Regions from separate parts of the Homo sapiens genome. Here regions 1 and 3 are each reported to be linked to region 2. The links are microRNA targets in miRTarBase. Many come from high-throughput screens and were not tested one by one. Region 2 holds a microRNA gene; each other region holds the end of a gene's coding sequence.
The links. Region 2 holds the annotated microRNA hsa-miR-365a-3p (UAAUGCCCCUAAAAAUCCUUAU, at 2,590-2,611, shown strand). A microRNA usually pairs through its seed, bases 2 to 8, with sites in the 3' UTR of a target mRNA and lowers its output. Matches are read on the target gene's strand: a 7mer-m8 pairs with bases 2 to 8, a 7mer-A1 pairs with bases 2 to 7 and ends in A, and an 8mer does both.

Region 1 (4,000 bases), not on the chromosome of region 2:
GTTAGGACAGGTGGATGATTTGGGAAGCAGCATTGAAGGGCTGGGCGATTAAGACAGGGAATAAAGAAACACTGATAGAAAGTAGTTACCACTGTGGGCAACCCTAATTGAGGACCCATGTGGAATAAGCCTGAGAACTGGTCCTCTGAGGATTGAAACATCTATCAGCTGACTGACTCCTGCCCCATTTAGTTGAGGGTTGCCTTGGGTTATTAACTCCCTGATACTCCTATGGTGCTTTGAGGGCTCTTGAGAAAGACTTAAGACAGAAAAGCAGAATGTGGGACTGCTTGGAGTGAAACTTGTCAGGCTGATTGTAACTGTCCACTACAGCGAAGCTGAAATCAGACATGGCCCAAGTGTGTGACTCAGGGCTGCATCTGTCAAGGAACATCTTTCCAGGGAAACTCCATAAACAACAGGACATCCAATGACATATGACTTCTAGAGCAATTTTATATAAAGTGGTTTTTTATTAATGAAACATTTCATTGCATTAAGGGTAGAAATAAACATGTCAAGAACCGCATGAAGTGAACCAACTGTATAAGCTACATGAAGAGCATTCTGGTCAGTATTCTTGTTAACAGGCACAAGCAATTTAGTGATAATGTCCAGAGGGCCAAGGATGCGGACCACCTTTTGCAGAACTCATATCTCGAGCAGTTTAAATTAAAAATTAGCCTCCCTTAAGTTAAAAACCCCAATAGGGGTTAGTCGTGTAGTGCTTGTTCCACTTGACCATTAGTGATCTTTCTAGAACATGAGGAAATCAAGTCTGGTTAGAAAAGCCTGGAGCTAAAAGTGGCAAAGCCCATTTCCTGTCCTGTGCTCAACTCCTAATTTTCCCTGAGAGAAGTGAGTTAAGCTCTCTGTCTTGGTTTCTTCCTCTCTAAGTTGAGGATCATGGTACCAGAAGCTTGCATTCTGTGATCATGACAGTGCTTACAATCACAAAGCCTTTGGGGGTCTTTCTAAGATAACTGCCGCAAGAAAATGAGCATGAGAAATAATTCATCTTCAACTTAAAGCCAAATAGGTGCATTCATTCCTCTTAATCTATAATTTTGACTGTAGTTTGTAGATCTGTCTCAGACTTTTCAGAAGGATAGTATCAAATGTGATTTAAACCAAGTAACTATTAAGAATCATAAAACAGGCCAGGCCCGGTGGCTTACGCCTGTAATCCCAGCACTTTGGGAGGCTGAGGTGGGCAGATCGCAGGGTCAGGAGATTGAGACCATCCTGGCCAACATGGTGAAACCCCGTCTCCACTAAAAATACAAAATTTAGCTGGGCGTGGTGGCACGCACCTGTAGTCCCAGCTACTTGGGTGGCTGAGGCAGGAGAATTGCTTGAACCCGGGAGGCAGAGGTTGCAGTGAGCCGAGATCATGCCACTGTACTCCAGCCTGGCGACAGAGTGAGACTCTCTCAAAAAAAAAAGAATCATGACACAAGTATGGAAGTAATGTTTTTGGTCTCCCTGCCAGTGTGCAACTCAGTCTAAATGTGTATATCATTAACTGTTATCATTTACAGTATTTAAAATATCCTCCTCACAGATGATTATATCCTGATAATAGGACTAAACCAATAAGTATGCACTAGCATTGTCAATTTTATTAGTATGGATAAGTACATGCATAATTAAGACATGCCCAATTATCTAGTTAAATGTTGATAAATTCTAAAAATGTAGATATTTAGCATTATTGAAGACCAAATATTTTTGTTAGTTTTTTTACATTTTGGTGAGTTGGAGTATCTAAAGGTTCTATCTTGATTCTATAGAAAATTTGAGAGTTTAATGAATTGCCTCTTCAAGAGGGGAAATATATCACATATTGTTTTAGTGTAGAAAAAGGAAAAATTGTCAGTAAAACAATTTATTACCTCAATACAGGGATAAGAAGCTATGGAAATGAAATCTATATTTTTTTCTTCATTTGCTTACATTGAAATCCAGTTTTAAACAAAAAAAATCCTTTTGAATGGTTCAGTTGTTAAGAAATTCTATAAGCACTTTGTCAGCTAAATGTATAGGCTTCTCAATTCAAAATGAATGCTGAACTTTGAGAATCAAAGAAAATGCCCTTAAATATGCTTGAATTCTGAACACTGTGACATATGATGGCTCCCAATTCCCTGTCTTAGGTTATGCTGAAACCAAGAAGTCCTTTGAAAAGTGGTGTCTCTGCTTCTGGTCCTAACAGACCTTTCTTTAAAGTACTTTGTGCAATATTTTAAACATCCATCATTCTGTCAGCAAAATGATTGTCACAGGAAGTATAGGGCACACGTTTCTCTATTCAGTGAGTGACAGTGAGCTACAAAACACTGGAAAGAACTGAAACTGAGGAAGGAACTTGTAAAAAGAACTTCAAAATTACCAAGAAGGCGGCTGTCCCAGAAGAAATATCTCTTTAGTCTAATCAGACTTTCTGAAACTTATGTGTAACTTAGGCTGTAGATAGATGGATTTCCCATATTCATAATTTTACAAATAATCACTCAATATTAGATTAATTAATACAGTAACATATTTGGCAAGGGCGACTCAGGAAGAAAAATCAGTTACTCATTACATTCTCTCAGAAGCATCTTTTCGTAGCATGATCATTTTGACTAAAAAAAAAACAGTTAACTATCCACAAGCATCATAACTAGCAATTAATTCTACATGAAATATCTGTACTTTATCCTCACCAACATTATTTATGCATTCTCTTCGTTCACAAAAGTACAAGTTAAAAATCCTTAGGAGCTTATCACTATCAACTCATGGGTATTGCCCCACCCAACCCCTTTCCCATTTGATTCTACCCAGTATTTTATTGCAGTTGGAAGACTGAGTTTTCCTGGAAGAATTATGAACTGAAGATCAGCATAAAATGTAATATGTTTTAGAAATCAGATGCATTTGAATGATATATTGGATGAAGCTACCATTTTACCCTGGGTCCCGAACTCTTATTTACTTCTGTTTTGCAAGTGAAATGGAGGAATACAACATAAAATGGTATATACGCATTTTGAGCACAAAGTTCGGTGAATGAAGCATACTGAATGAAGTTAGACCAGTAGCATTAACAAGTGATGCAGAGACATTTTACCCACAATAGTGGTCACAAAATTCTGGAGCTACCAGCACCCAACAACAACAAAATTACTATACAAGGGTTTATTAAATACTTGCTAGACACATAAAAGAACAATTTCAGAGCCCACATGATTTTATAAAGCTTAATGGCCAGCCATGTCAGCCTGCTCTTTAACCTCTGGCCAGAATGTTCCTATCACTTGCCAGCGCCGTGTCTTTTTCCTTCTTTCAACAGGCAACAAGCCTGCAAGGAGGTGGAGGGTTTCCCCACGTCATCGTCCAGGTCAGGACAGCTCACACAGTTTCTTCACCAAGCAAAGGCAATGTTTAGGTTCGAATGAGGGGTGCTCTTTCATCCGCTGTTCCCTGAAACACAGAAGAGAGAAAACAAGTTAGATGTTCATGTCAGAAACTTCTCCCCAGTGTGAAAAGTTTGGGTGGGGAGTGGGGGCATGGAAGGAGGAGAGACCTATAGGAAGGTGGCTCATCTCACTCACCTCCCCTCTTGGGCTGCTGCTTGTTCTTGAAGATTCAGCAGGCCTAACCTTTCCAGGAGGCCTTCTCTGACCACTCCCACCCTCAATACCAGAGCAGTACCCTTCTCTGTGTTGATCTGGATTATAAAACTTAGACTCTATTCAACTTGCCTCCTTCCTGGTTTGAAACCTACTAAGGAGTAGTGTCTCAGAGGTATTAGTTCTCAATAATTCCTTGCTTGTTGAATATATGAGGAAGGTTAATTGTAGGAGCAGTAATTAACATTTCCATGAGGTTTCATTTGTGCTTAAGACAATTTCAATGACTGCATAAAGTCACACTGGAAGATCCACACATAGAAATGGCAAAATAGTTTGCCTCACAGCTAATTCAGGCTAAAGTGACTGGCAGGGGATAAGAG
Region 2 (4,148 bases):
CAGCGTCCCCAGTTGTAGGGGACATATGCACATATTTACCAAGCTTTAAAATAAGGTTTCTGATTTTATATCATCCGTCTGAGTTTACGGAACCACAAAGCAAACTTCTTTCTCCGTGTCCCTGAAATGCTGCCCCACTGCAGCAAAGGGGACTTCGCCTGGGCAGGGAGAGGAGTTAGTGGCTGGTTGCGCCTAAGGTTAGCTGTGCGGTGTGGTATGACAGTTTTCTCAGAGATGTGCAAAAATCTAGGCTCTCTTGCTGGAATCGTGTGAGATCAGTGCTGGGCCTGTTGGCATTGGCATTTGTGCCCAAGACAGCCCAGACCTCTGCCAGCCGAGGCCCAGATGTGGCCTCAGAGCCACTACTGGTGCCCAGACAAGTCCAGACAGGTGCCTGGGGGTCTTTCCTCCCGAGACGAAGCCTGCAGCAGTTCAGCCAGAAGATGGGGTATTTGGCTCTCAAAGTCAGCCTCCCCAGAGACTCTGCAGGGTTTAATAGCCTGGTGACCCTGTGGGCTCTGGCGAGGGCAGAACCCCACTTTGCTTTCCAAATGCTCAAAGGGGAACAGATGAGGCTATCCCACAGGCTCAGAGCAAATCTGTCCTGTGTGAGTGCAAACGTGGTTCTAGAAGATTCAGAGGCAAAGCTGAGCTTTTGCAGCCCAGCCCCAAGCCCTTGCTCTCGAGCACCAGGGCTGCGATCCTTCGACTTGGGGTGGGCCTAGGAGGCGTAGCTCCCAGCCAGCAAGACAACACATAACACATCTGAGTTACCGTGCATGTGTTTGCTGGTCTCTTCTCCAGCTCCGTGAGGCCTCCCACCTGGGAGCTGAGCCTTTTGCTTTGATCAGGCTGGGAGGAAAACCTAGGCCAGGAAGGGCCGGGCTGCAGGCTGGAAGTGGAAAGAAGTGGGCCAGGTGGACAGAAAAAGGGGCCACCAACTAAGCCACCTTGGGGGTCGGCCCAGAGTGAGAACTGGGCTGGCATTCTGGGTTCAAACACACAAGAAAACTGTCTGCAGCCTCTCTGCCCTGGCACCAACATGTGCCTGCTCCAGGAAGTTGCACCCAGCCCTGAGTCAGCCAAACCCGTGGGACTCCCATTTGGCCCCAGTAACTGGACTCCAGGCTACCAAAGGCCTCGTGGGTTCTCGATCGTATCTTAGAATGGCGTTAAAAGGTCCAGACCCGGCACCTGTAGGCCATGCCGTATTTAGCCCTAGGTTCACCCGGAGAATATTTTAGGTGCTACTTGAAAGAAGAGATCTGGGCCCTAGTTGCCGGCTGTCACATGGCAAGGGTAGAATCGCTCCCTCACAGACCTGGCCGAGATGGCCGGGTGCTCACTGGTACAGGTGCCCAGAGTCCCTGCCAGAGCTTCGGGGCCATGCGACGGGTGCCAAGGAGCCAGCTAGCGACTGGGGCGTCGGTTCTGTGTGGGGATGCCTTTTCACCCCGTTCTCAATCTGAAGGCAGTGAATCCACTTCCATTCACAGAACTCACAGAGGCCTCTCCTCTCTGAGATGGCCCAGTGTGATATCCCAGGCTGCGTAGTAAGCTCCTCCTCTGGTGTCAGCCATGTGGAGGGGTTAACCCTTTCCTGGCTCTGAGGGTGCTGGCTGGCACAGGGGGCACCCACCTGCAGGGCCTCAAAGGTTATATGCCTTGGGGAAGACACCCTGAACTCCTTAGTCCTCAGATCTTAGTGGCTGAACCAAGAGATGGCACCTGGGACCTTAGCAGTAAAACCCGTCCCCTTTTTTTTGAGACAGTGTCTTACTCTGTTGCCCAGGCTGGAGTGCAGTGGTGAGCACAGCTCACTGCAGCCTGAACTTCCTAGGCTCAAGCCTCATCCTCCTGAGTAGCTGGGACTACAAGCACACACCACCACACCTGGCTATTTTTTGCAGAGACTTGGGGGGGGTCTCACTGTGTTGCCCAGGCTGTTCTCAAACTCCTGGCCTCAAGCAGTCCTCCCACTTTGGCCTCCCAAAGTGCAGGGATTACAGGCGTGAGCCCCCACGCCAGCCGGTTTGCCCCTTTTGCACCACCAGCGATAACCACTCAGCTCCCCTACCCAAGCCTTAGTCCTTCTGTCCGTGTTGTGGAAACCAGGTATTTTCATCAGCATTTCCAAGGGGACTAAGTTTCTCCCATTCCAGAGGAGGAGGTGTTGAAGGATAACTTAGATCATTAATGAGGGTCTGGAACAGTCATCTGAAGTTTGGGGGAAACGTCACGTCTCCTATGATGCGCCTGGCTTTAGGGAATAATCCTTGTATCCATTTTGGGAACCTGCTCTGGGATTCCAGATCTGTGGTTTTCTGAGCACGTCTGTGTGGAAGCTGCTGCACTGAGACCTATTTAGCCAATTATTGAGAAGATGAGGTCCCTTTCGTGAGTCTGCACGGAGCCGCCGTACACCATGAAAGCGCTCACTTGTTTAAAGTTTGCTCTAACTTTGTACATTTTTTCCTTTTTAGTTTTGGCTCTTGGTGCTCTGAGAGCTACCACTTCCTGCCAGCTGGTTCGTTACCGCAGGGAAAATGAGGGACTTTTGGGGGCAGATGTGTTTCCATTCCACTATCATAATGCCCCTAAAAATCCTTATTGCTCTTGCAGTATTCCTCGGGGGTCCCTGGGCCAGAAAGACATCAGCTCGGAGTTCCTCCAGCAACTCAAAGAAGAGAGAAAGCTGTTCCCCAAACTCTTCCGCTGTAGCGCCTTCTGGGTCCCTGGTAGATGCCTTCTTGTGCTCAAAACCGGTTATCACTGTGAAAAATTGAAAGACGCCATGCGCAGACACTGGTTGCTAAACGTGCTTTTGCCCTCCAGGGGCAGACGCTGAGATCCGGCCTGGGAAGGAGTACAGCTGTGGCTCCCCATCAGCGTCAGCATTTGCTCTGGGGGGTTGTAGGGGGAGGTAGGGAAAGCGGAAAGAAACAAGTGTTACCTGTTTGACGAGGCCTGGTCCTTGCAGCCAGGGCCTCCGGGATCATCGCCTTGGCAGGGGGCCCTGGGGCAGTCCTGGCTTTCCTGCTAGCTCCCTGAGACAGAACACTTTCCCCGCTCGCTGCCTCAGTTTCCCCATACACCAAGGGAGGGGCAGCACCCCCTGCTCTGGCTTCAAAGGGTTCTTGGATGTAGCCAATGTTATATATAAAAAGCTCTAACGTTGTATAAGCTCTGAAGGTGCTTTGAAAATTGGAGAGTCCATGCATTAAACATGGAAGGTAATAATATGAATACACACAGAGGAATTCATGGGTGGGGAGACGGCAGCCCAGCACTGAGCCTGGGTTTCTGGGATCAGCCAGGCCTGCATTCCAGCCCGAGCTCTGCGCCTCTCTTGCTGTGTCACCCGGGACAAGTGAGTCAGTCTCTCTGAGCCACCAGCTCCTCAGGCATGAAACCTGTAACTCAGACTCCCAAGTCTGATTTGCACATCTCTGATTTTAAGCGGCGCCGGCTAAAGGTGAAAATTATTCTAGTAGGTATTCTTTGCACCGCTGATTTGTACTTCAGGCAATTGGTTGGTTTTCCATTTAGGGTCGGGAGACAGGGGCCCTTTTTTTGTCCATCAATTGATGTCAGTTAAACAAAAAAGAGTGGGTGTTTTGGAAGAAAAATATTAAGCAACTACAGCTGCCCTGAGGATGGGACAGAAATCAGAAAGTCGTGTGTAAAGTTTCAGAGGTCCACTTTTAGAGAATTCTTGTTTATCTCAGGGATTTTCCGCACTCCTGTAGTCGGTGTGGGGAGGGGTGGGGGGAGATGGGGGAGTTGCCAGTTCAGATCTGTAGAGGGCTCCAGCATGACAAAACTGGGTGTCACACATCTTCCTTTTGGGGGTCGGGAAACCACCCTTCCCTGCTCACCGACACCACTGGGACCCCTCACCCCCCCACTCCTGCATTGATCCATAGCTCAGATTTCTCTCTCATTTTAGGGTCACGATGACTCAGCACCCTCCTTTCTGGCCAGGGCACCTCCCTTGGCCTCTAGGGGCACTTGCCTGACAGGCCTCACTGTGCCGGACCTGGGAGCCAGCTGCCCACCAGCCCCCTGGGACTCTGGTTTTGCAGGGAAACCATGGGTGATCAGTCCCAGCCGGCAGGGGCCAACTGCGGTTTCACTTTCTGCTGCAT
Region 3 (4,000 bases), not on the chromosome of region 2:
CCATGGTTTTTGAGGAATACGAAGCAGGATTAGTAACAAACTAGGAATGCATGCTCATTATAGAGCAGTGGACCCTAAATTTCTAAGGAAACCCCCCACCTCCCTCCCTTCTCTTACCCAACCTCAAAGCTTCTTGCATAAAGCTTCCTAGATGTCAGATCATCCCTGGGAAGAGGGTTGAGGAACCTGTTGCTGTAAAGAGTAGCACCCGTGGGTAAGAGCTCTAACTCGTAACATGGCCAACAGGCCTGCACCCCAGTCCTAGCCTGCCACTCTCTTAGCCTCTCTGGGTTTCAGTGACTTTGACTACAAGGCAGGGATGTGGTAGCCCCTCCTCGTAGGAGGCTGTCGGGATTGAGTGATTGAGTGAGATGGCCCCTGTAAAGCTCTGAACCAGGCAGTCGGCACTCAGGAATGTTCACCAAGGGTGTTCTGTGACCGATGCTACATACGTCTCTTTGATTTGACTTCCAGCCTCTGGTTGAACGGTTTGAGACATTCTGCCTGGACCCTTCCCTTGTCACCAAGCAAGCCAACCTTGTGCACTTCCCACCAGGCTTCCAGCCCATTCCCTGCAAGCCTTTGTTCTTTGACCTGGCCCTCAACCATGTGGCTTTCCCACCCCTTGAGGACAAGTTGGAACAGAAGACCAAGAGTGGCCTCACTGGATACATCAAGGGCATCTTTGGATTCAGGAGCTAACCAGGCTCTTCCTCGGGGGCGGGGGAGATTCTGACTCTTAATCTGTATTGTGAGAAAATCCCAGCAAGTTCCATGATATTAAATCCAGGTCTGCATTGGCCCGGGGCAAGAGTTTAACATCTTCGGCCCTGCATTCCTACATCTTGTGTCTGTACACGTTCTTAAGCAGCGTGTCAGGAGAGCACCCTGTTGTCTTCTGGTAAATGTGTGCAGGGTCATCCTGTCTCCTGTACCTCCTGGGAAAGGGGCCGCTGCTGTCTGGTGCCCTGTGAGCTGTGATTGATTGCCTTTGGTCAGTAATGCGTTCAGGAGTCCACACCAGGCACAGATGGGGCCTTGAAACGCTTTGTCATGCTTCTTCAGTACCATGGATTTGAAATGAACTCATCCTTGCTGTGAGCATCCAGGAGCCCTTGAGAAGTTTATCTATGACTATGAAACTGGCAACGTCACCCCAGAATTACGGTCAGCCTTATTCCCCTTCACCTCCCAGTGAACGCTAAGAAGTTTCAGACAAGCAGAGAGCTCTATTTTTAGAAGAAATATGTTACACTCAGAAATGATGAAACCAAATCTTATATTAAAAGGCAAAGATGACGGAGACTGTGCCCATTTCTTATATGCCCTCCCTCATGTCCAGTCCCCGTTCTCTCCTCGGGAGCCTAGTTGCGTGAAGCCGGTGAGGTCAAGTGTAACCTGACTTACCGGCAACTAGGTGAGGCTGATGCCAGATACACATGTTAGAGGCACTATTTTTCAGGACTTCCCAATGTGTAATTTTTAGATGCCATTATATTTTAATCCCCTTCGTTACCCCCCGTTTTTCCTTAGTCATCCCTTTTCACTTCTATTATAACATCAATAATAGAAGTCACAAAAACAATGTAAGAAAGCAAGGAATAAAAGTGATTTAAACATGTACCTGACACTTAACGATTCCCTTTGGAAATCAAAACTCATCTGTCACATAGGAAAGAAAATTCGTCACAAGAAATGTTGGCTTAGATGTTTTCCGTTTTTGAGCAAACCCAGTGGCTTGAAGAAAAGGCTGACTGGTTAAAAATCCAAGAGCATTGTTTCAGGATGGCATTGTAACCCCCCGAGGGTTCTTGCCCGCTGCCCAGATGGAGTTGATTCATGGAAACAGGAATTGCAATAGAGAGTTTAGTTCACACACAGCCGTCTAAACAGGAGACTGGAGTTTATTACTCACATTGGTCTCCCTGAAAATTCAGAGACTGGGAATTTTAAGGATAATTTGGTGGGTAGGGGGTCAGGAAATGGGGAGTGCTGATTGGTCAGGTTGGAGATGAAGTCATAGGGAGTTGGAGATGAAGTCAGGGAGTTGGAGATGAAGTCATAGGGAGTTGAAGCTGGCCTCTTGTGCTGAGTCGGTTTCCTGGGTGGGGGCTACAAGACCAGATGAGCCAGTTTGGATGGATGGTGCCAGCTGATCCATAAAGTGCAGGGTCTGAAAAATATCTCGAGCACCATTCTTAGGTTTTACAACAGTGATGTCATCCCTAGGAGCAACTGGGAAGGTTCAGAATCTTGGGCCTCTGGCTGCATGACTCCTAAACCATAATTTCAATTTTTGTGGCTAATTCGTTAGTCCTACAAAGGCAGTCTGGGCCCCAGGCAAGAAGGGGGTTTATTTCCGGAAAGTGCTGTTACCATCTTTGTTTCAAAGTTAAACAGTAAACTGTAAGCTTCTCCCAAAGTGAGTTCGGCTTATTCCCAGGAATGAACAAGGACAGCTTGGAGGTTAGAAGCAAGATGGAGTGGGTTAGGCTAGACCTTTTTCACTCTAATAATCTCACCGTTAGAATTTTTGTAAAGGTGGTTTTAGAATGCCACTGTGGGCTTGGCTGTGCCTTTTGTTTTCCCAGTAAGTTGCAGGGAGGGAAGGCTATAAGAGCTAGAAAGGATGGTGAGACACAAATCAGGCTTCTTGTTAGAATTGTGTTGTGGCTTAGAACCTTGAGATGCTCGCAGAGAGGCCCTGATCCCCCGGGGTTTGTTTTGGGTTGGAGAGCCTCAGGAAGCTGGGGTTTTTTTTTTTAATTGAAAGTTTCATCATCTATGCCATATAAATTTAGGACTATCCTCACCCCTTCTGAAAATATAGCACAGATAGGCTGGACACAGTGGCTTACGCCTGTAATCCCAGCACTTTGAGAGGCCAAGGCAGGCAGATCACTTGAGGCCAGAAGTTCGAGACCAGCCTGGGCAACATGGTGAGACCTTGTCTCTACCAAAAAAACTTTTTTAAAAGAAAAATATATATAGCACAGATGACTGGTCTCAGGTTGAGGTCCTGGGTTTTGATCAGGTCAGCGTCCCTGCGGGCTGAGGAACCACGATTTGGGGGTTAGGGGGTCTTCATCCATGTCCTCATCCTCCTCCCAGGGCCATGGGCCAAGATTCTGCACCTCCCTTGTCTCGTCTCTGTGCTGACAGCCACGCTGTCCTCCAGCTCCAAGAACCCAATTGCAGGCCCTGCTGTGCTGCAGTCTCAGGCCGTTGCCTGCAGCATCGTGAGGGGGACGGGCATGGGGAACCGCTCATCCTCCTGGAAGATGTCCCTTTGTCCTTCCCACAGCCCTCCCAGCCCCTCCCACTCTAGAGTGCTGGCCTCAGTGGGGACCCAGGACCTATAAACTAGAGATGGAGGCGAATCCCAACTGCACCTTTTCCTTCTCAGGTTGCCTAATGCTTTGTCTCGCGGCCACACTACAAATTCCATTCCTCCCGGTGCTCCTGCCAGGCGCTCTGAGCAGCATTGGCTGTTAACGGCCAGTGATGCTGTTTAGTATTAAAAGCAGGTGTTTACATAAGAAGACAGATCTGGCAGGGCCAAGGTCTCCGGCGAGCTTGCACATCCCTTCACATGGGATTCCTGGACATTAAGCAGGCTGTGTCGTGGGGGACAGAGCGCCAGATGCAGGACCCCCTCCTGTCCTCAGGCCCTGGGAAGTGGCTCTGCCTCTGATGGGAGCAGGTTTCAAGTCAGGCCCTCACTGCCCCTGGGCCCTGCAGGCTGTTCGCTGGGGGTTTTCACAAAAAGACACTTCGGAGGCCACACAGTCCTGCCTTCCCACGGGGCAGGACATGCAGATGAGGCCCCGGGGGCCGCGAATGGGTCTGTTCCAAGTGGGTGTTCCCGTGTTGTGCTGGCTCCAGTCCCTCCTCCAGGATGGACTCTGGTGCTGTCAGCAAGCTCTGACCCTGGAGGAGGCTTCTGTCTCCAACATCAAGAGAGGACGAAGAGAGCTCCATTCAGTCCCCTTATACTTTT

Region 1: the mRNA of SCARB2 is a reported target of hsa-miR-365a-3p. Seed matches in the 3' UTR shown: 7mer-m8 at 2,090-2,096.
Region 3: the mRNA of SRP68 is a reported target of hsa-miR-365a-3p. The part of its 3' UTR that is shown has no 7-base or 8-base seed match.

Annotation. Positions count from the first base shown.
Region 1 is chr4:76,158,284-76,162,283 of GRCh38, forward strand. It overlaps SCARB2 (scavenger receptor class B member 2), which reads right to left. Exons shown (of 12, transcript NM_005506.4): 12 at 454-3,468. The coding sequence ends at 3,430. LOC124900718 (a long non-coding RNA gene) reads left to right here. Exons shown (of 2, transcript XR_007058144.1): 2 at 1-484. Among named protein-coding and RNA genes, the nearest start is that of NUP54, 12 kb to the left of the region's middle.
Region 2 is chr16:14,306,751-14,310,898 of GRCh38, forward strand. It overlaps MIR365A (microRNA 365a), which reads left to right and starts at 2,535; the gene lies at 2,535-2,621. The region is part of intron 1 of MIR193BHG (MIR193b-365a host gene); the gene reads left to right. RefSeq lists enhancers at 1-405, 406-1,090, 1,886-1,935, 3,822-4,116, 3,908-4,027 and 1 more and a silencer at 3,702-3,996.
Region 3 is chr17:76,036,408-76,040,407 of GRCh38, reverse strand. It overlaps SRP68 (signal recognition particle 68), which reads left to right. Exons shown (of 16, transcript NM_014230.4): 16 at 475-1,623. The coding sequence ends at 702. Among named protein-coding and RNA genes, the nearest start is that of EVPL, 11 kb to the right of the region's middle. RefSeq lists an enhancer at 1-250 and a silencer at 3,406-3,700.